2 separate regions of the Homo sapiens genome follow, and region 2 is linked to region 1. Evidence: fine-mapped expression QTL. A gene starts in region 1. The other region holds a variant in brackets. All regions are shown on one strand. Distances are between the middles of the regions. Region 1 holds the start of ZNF143 (zinc finger protein 143). Region 2 overlaps ZNF143 (zinc finger protein 143).

What was found. PIP is the estimated chance that this variant, and not a neighbour inherited with it, causes the effect.
Region 2: its variant is fine-mapped to the expression of ZNF143 in whole blood (INTERVAL, PIP 0.91).

The regions. Positions count from the first base shown.
Region 1 is chr11:9,459,783-9,462,694 of GRCh38, reverse strand. ZNF143 (zinc finger protein 143) reads right to left here and starts at 1,683. Exons shown (of 16, transcript NM_003442.6): 1 at 1,619-1,683. ZNF143-AS1 (ZNF143 antisense RNA 1) reads left to right here and starts at 1,997. Exons shown (of 1, transcript NR_036539.1): 1 at 1,997-2,912. RefSeq lists a silencer at 1,090-1,299 and enhancers at 2,070-2,149, 2,210-2,309, 2,400-2,479, 2,679-2,912.
Region 2 is chr11:9,499,037-9,501,948 of GRCh38, reverse strand. ZNF143 (zinc finger protein 143) reads right to left here. Exons shown (of 16, transcript NM_003442.6): 11 at 679-858. Among named protein-coding and RNA genes, the nearest start is that of ZNF143, 39 kb to the right of the region's middle. The variant T/C (reference allele first, on the strand shown) is at 1,641.

The DNA of each region.
Region 1 (2,912 bases):
ACCACGTTGACCAGACTGGTCTCGAACTCCTGACCTCAGGTGATCCGCTGGCCTCGGCCTCCCAAAGTGCTGAGATTACAGGTGTGAGCCACCACACCCAGGCTAAAATTCAACTAATTATCACTTTTTTTTTTTTCGAGACCGGTCTCTGTCACCCAGACGGGAGTACAGTGGCACAATCACGGCTCACTGCAGCCTGGAACTCCTGGGCTCAAGTGATCCTCTCACCTCTGCCTCCAAGTACCTGGGACTACAGGCACACGCTGATTTCACTTAAAAAAAATTTTTTTTGTAGAAACATGGGAGGGCCGTCTCCCTATGCTGCCCAGGCCTAATTACACATTTTAAATGGGTGAACTGTAAGGTATGTGAATTACATCACTAAAGCTATTTTAAAAAATAAAGGCGGGCATCTGTAAAGCAAAAAAAAAAAAGGCACTCAAGTATCTGTAGACAGCTGACTGCTCATAGAATTTCCAAATAGTGGACACTGACAATTAAAAAAAAAAAATTTCCAAACAGTCAAAATACGCCAGGACAAAATTAGCTATGCATCTTATGGGTGTTTTTGAGTGATCTCCTTATCACGTTATTTTCTTACTAAACGTAAACTTGATCTACATACTCAGCAAGAAAAAACATTAAATACTGCACCGTTTTTTGTCAACTACAGGAAAACACAAGTATCTTCTGGTAAGATTCAGGACAAAGCCGACCACAATCTCGAACCTACAATTTCTCCCCACATTCTCACTTGATTATATCAGCTGATTTAGACACTTCCAAAGCAAAGGCTGACGCTGATTTTAAACAAATAATGGGCTGGCAATGGTATTCTTCTTTCCTCTTTTTAACTTCGTTATTATGTGGAAAAAACAAATGTCCAAAGCAAAAGGGGAAGGAATAAAAACTAGTTCGCGTTCCACAATAATACGTTTCAAAGAGACTTATAAGAATTTGTTCACTCTTTTGGCCAAAACTGGAGAAAAGGGAGGATAAAATTGTAAATTTCTAATATCCGATGTTAGACCTCAGTAACCTTTTTTTTTTTTTAATAGAAGAAAGGGTGAGGGGGAAACAATCTGCCCACGATACGCATGGGAAGCAAGCGCTAGGTGAGACCGGCAGGTCCTGGGAGGGCCTGGGCCAGCCCTGTCCCCGGCGCCCCCGCTGCGGCCTGGTGTGGCCCGTGGGCCCGGCGTCCCAGGCGGCGGAACTCTGCCTCGGCGGCGCCTGGGGACTCGCTCTGCGCGGAGGTCAGGCCGAGAAACGCGGCCAAGGCTCCCGAGGGCTCCACCCTCCCCTCTTTCACTCCCTCCCCTTGGCGGTCCCCTGAGGGAAACAGGCGGGGCGCATCGCTCAGAGACAAGCTGGGGGGAGTTGAGTCCTCAACGAAAAAAGCTCCGCCGCCTAGAGTGGCGGCCGCGGGTTATTAATAAACTCCGCTTCTGCCCAGACGCCGCTACCGCGGCCGGCCCATAAAATCGGCAAGGCCTGCGGCGGAGGCTGAGCAGCGGGAGCCGGAGCCCGGGCCCAAGCGGGCCCGCGCCGCCGCGCTGAGGGCGGCGGCCAGGCGGAGAATAATGCACACTGGGTAAAAACACATTTATATACGAACCTCCGAGAAAATTTTCCAACAATTCCTTCGTCCGACCACCATGCACCAGGACAGGAAACAGCCGTCCGGCCCCCAGGCCCCGCAACCCGCATAGTGTGTCTGAGGCCCGCCCCCAGCTTCCATTGGGCTGTCATTACATCACTCACAGGACGCTTCCGGTTTTCCATTGGCCCACGTTTGGTCGACGCGAAAGAAAACCGCCCTAGCCGCGCCCACTCAACTGACGTCAGCCAAGCCTGACTTTACAGCCCGCCCCTGAGTGGCTCGCGCAAAGTGCAGAATCAAAGCTCCTGTGTCTGACTGGTTGACATAACCGCTTATCCCAGACGGACCCCGCCTCACTGACTAGCGAGTCATACCGATTCTGGGGCCCCAGCGGGAGGCGCCATTTTGTAGCGAGGGAGGGAGGCTGGTCCTTGTGATTACCCGGGAGGGAGCCGGGGTGACGAGCGCCATTTTCCCCACAGGGGCGAGGAGGCGGCTTTGGTTCTCCCGGTGGGCTTGCCGGAGTGCGTTCTGCAGACCAGAAGGGCTTTGTCTGGCGATTGCTGAATGCTCAATAGCAGCCTGCTGGGAGGGAAGTCGAAGGGAGAAATAGGACAGAAAGAGAGACCTGACCTCTCCCTGGAGGCTCTCAGTGTCGGCCGAGGCCCTTGGTCTTGCTCTAGGGCTCTGCATTCCCGAGAGCTGCTGTATGCCGGGGATTGGCTTCCAAGCCTGCCTGAGCTTCTCCAGTCTCCCGGGCATCGCCATGCGGTGGGAGGGTGAGCCTTCCTCTCCTGCTGAAATTCCGGCGGCTTGGCAACCGGCCGGGGGGTCTTGGATTCCTCGGGGAGACACCACTGATGCTTTGTGGTTTCACGTAATTTGGATTTAAAAGTTGAAGGCGTCAGAAATGGTTGTCGCTACGGTCTTTTGTATGTTCTTGTGTTGCGAACTAATAAAGGAAAGTCAAAAGGGTGGGAGAAGCATTCAGTCTGGTTCCCTAAAGTTACTAAGAATGGATACAAATTAGTTGTGGCCGTTGCGGTTAATGCTTCTTGTAGCTCTTAACCCAGCCCTTTCTAAACCTTTGGATATACTTACTAGTCAGTTCCGAAGGTACTCAGTACAAATTTGCGTTGGCGCACCAGGCCGACTAAAGATGAGGTGGGTGTATTAGACTCAAAATTTCTTAAGTCGGCCAGGGGGTAGAATTGAGCTACCAAGAGAATGAGAGACTACCCTGTTGTAACAGATTTGGATCGCGCTTAGAAAAACAGGGAGAAAGCTGGATGATGTTCAACTTAATGTC
Region 2 (2,912 bases), 39 kb before region 1:
AAAAAAAAAAAAAAAAAAAAAAAGAATATATCCATAGACCACCCCGCCCCCTCACAAGCTTCACAAAGTCCAGTTTAAGAAGTACCTTAACTTTGACAGCACAACACACAAGGCCTCTGGCTACCTCTCAGAACTCACCTTGTACAAATCTTCTACATGTACTTAATGCTCCTGTCATATGGAACCACTGAGTATCATGCTTTTTCATACCTTTGTGCCTTTCCCCATGACATTTCCCCTGCCAGGAATACCCTTCTCTCTTATGTGGCAAACTTCAGGATTGAGTCTGTATGCCAAATATCTCCCAGAAACCCCTCCCAAAATGCTTCTCCCATTCCTGCAGAAGTGACTGCTCCCCTCTCTGCTCCCACAGCATCTTGTCCATATAATGGGAGACACTGCAGCAACTGTATGTCTACTATCTCTTCCCAAGTAGCCTGCCCTTGACAATGTCTTATCTCTCTATGTTTGATGCCTGGCAGGAGATACTCAATAACTGTTTGTTGAATAAATGAATGTATGACTGTTAAGGTGAAACTTTTTCAAGTTGCTTAATCTCTTTCCACCATGCCAAGTGATAGAAAGGAGGGAAGAGATTAGTTGGAAATGGTTTCTGGAAAAGGCAGGAGTTAAACTGAGCCTTGAAAGATAAAAGACCAAAAGATCAGAGATTGTTACCTGTGTGTATCCTCACATGGTTTTTATAATTTGTTGCACTGGCAAATGCCCTCCCACATCCTGGCTCTGTGCAGTAATAAGGTCTTTCTCCTGTGTGTGTCCTAACGTGCACTTTTCTGATATTTGATGTTGTAAAGGACCGACCGCAGCCTTCGAAGGGACACTTAAAGGGCCTTTCTCCTGCAAATATAAAGGGTAATACATTAAATGGTGCAAAAATATATAGAGGATTAAAATGTCTTATCCTTCAATCCTGCCTAGGATTATGCTCAAGACTCTAGCCTTCTTGTGCTGAGCTTCCCTTTCAGGCATTTTTTTGGGGGGGTTGGGGAAACAGCATCTTCCACTCCAAACTTAAATCTACATAAGAAACTGGGAATGGTATTCAAAACTAATCACTGATTACATAGCTCTCCAAGATGGAATCATCCAGGTAGGCAAAAAATGAGCTGAGAAAAGCAGAGAGAAAAACATAAGAAATATAAAAGAAAAGTACAGTCAGGAATATGAATTAAATTAGAACAAACCCAGAATTCCCTAAAAGCTTGTATCCTACTTGATTTATTCTACAATATCTTGCAGGAAAATAATTTTTGCTCTTTAAAAATATGGTGTTTTGACCAGCCTGGCCAACATGGTGAAACCCTTTCTCTATTAAAAATACAAAAAATTAGCTGGGCATGGTGCCGGGCGCCTGTAATCCCAGCTACTCGAGAGGCTGAGGCGGGAGAATCGCTTGAACTCAAGAGGCGGAGGTTGCAGTGAGCCGAGATTACACCGTTGCACTCCAGCCTCGGCGACAGAGCGAGACTCCATCTCAAGAGAAAAAAAAATGGTGTTTTAACTAATGTTCAACAAGATAATGCCTAATATTAACTGTGTCAGGAAATAGTAGGTGTTCAATACATACTTGTGTTACTGAACCAAAAAAAAAAAAAAGAAAATCTAGTGCCTAGCACATA[T/C]GTCAAAAATACCTGCTGGACATACTACTACTACCCTCATAATCTAAGCTTATAAAAAGTCTGGCCAGGCACAGCAGCACATGCCTGTAATCCCAGCACTTTGAGAGGCTAAGGCAGGCGGATCACTTGAGCTCAGGAGTTCAAGACCAGCCTGGGCAACATGGCGAAACCCCGTCTCTACAAAAAAAATTCAAAAAATTAGCTGGGTGTAGTGGTGCACAGTGGTAAGTCCCAGCTACTCGGGAGGGTGAGATGGGGGGATCACATGAGCACAAGAAGTCAAGGCTGTAGTGAGCTGTGACTGTGCCACTGCACACCAGCCTGGGCACTGAAGTGAGACACTGTCTCAAAAACAAAAAAATCTGCTTTACCAATTATGTTTCTTTCCTTCATATTTGCTTTATACAATCTTGGAATACGAAAGGCCTTTAAACTGTCAAGCAAGAAGTAGCCTTTGCTTTTGATTCTCATGTACCCTTTTCTAGGATGAGCTCAAATTAGGCAAACAACTTCTGGGGAAGGGGAAAAAATCTCTCTTTATATAGACAGATACAGATATTTATCTATATATAGTAAGTTTGTTAAATTTTTTAAGAGATGAGTCTCACTATGTTGCTCAGGCTGGAATGCAGTGGCTCTTCACAGGCACGATGGTTGCACACTGCAGCCTCGAACTCCTGCCCTCAAGCAATCCTCACACCTCAGCCTCCCGGGTAGCTGCGACCACAGGCACATGCTACCACGACTGGCTAGTTTGTTGTTTTTCTTTTGGTCAAATGAAATTATGATTTCTCTATTGGTGGAAACCATTCCAAAAGATTTCTCCCCTTAAGTATGAAATCATTTTAAAAGGAGCAGGAATCTTTGATCCTATCTCTAGTAAGTTTTATTCATTATGTCAGCCTAAGGAGAACAAAGAGTTTATCCTGGGCAAGTCTTTTCTCTTGGATCTAGATGACCTCTAAAGTCTTCCCAGCTCTGACATGCTATGATAGGGAATCAACTGTTCTAGGATAATTTTCACTGTATTACTACTCTGATTCTGTAACATCCTGCTTTGTTTTTGCACTGTAATCTTCTGTATTTGTTACAGAAGTCCCTATGTCCCTTACTCAATCCCACACTATACCAATGAAAATATCATGATTTTAAAGCTGTTATATGAACATGTGGTTTGACAAATGAATACTATGAAATAAATCACAATTCTGATGTTTTTTAATCAATATTTATAAAACTAGATTATTGGTTTGATATAGCTTTTATATAACA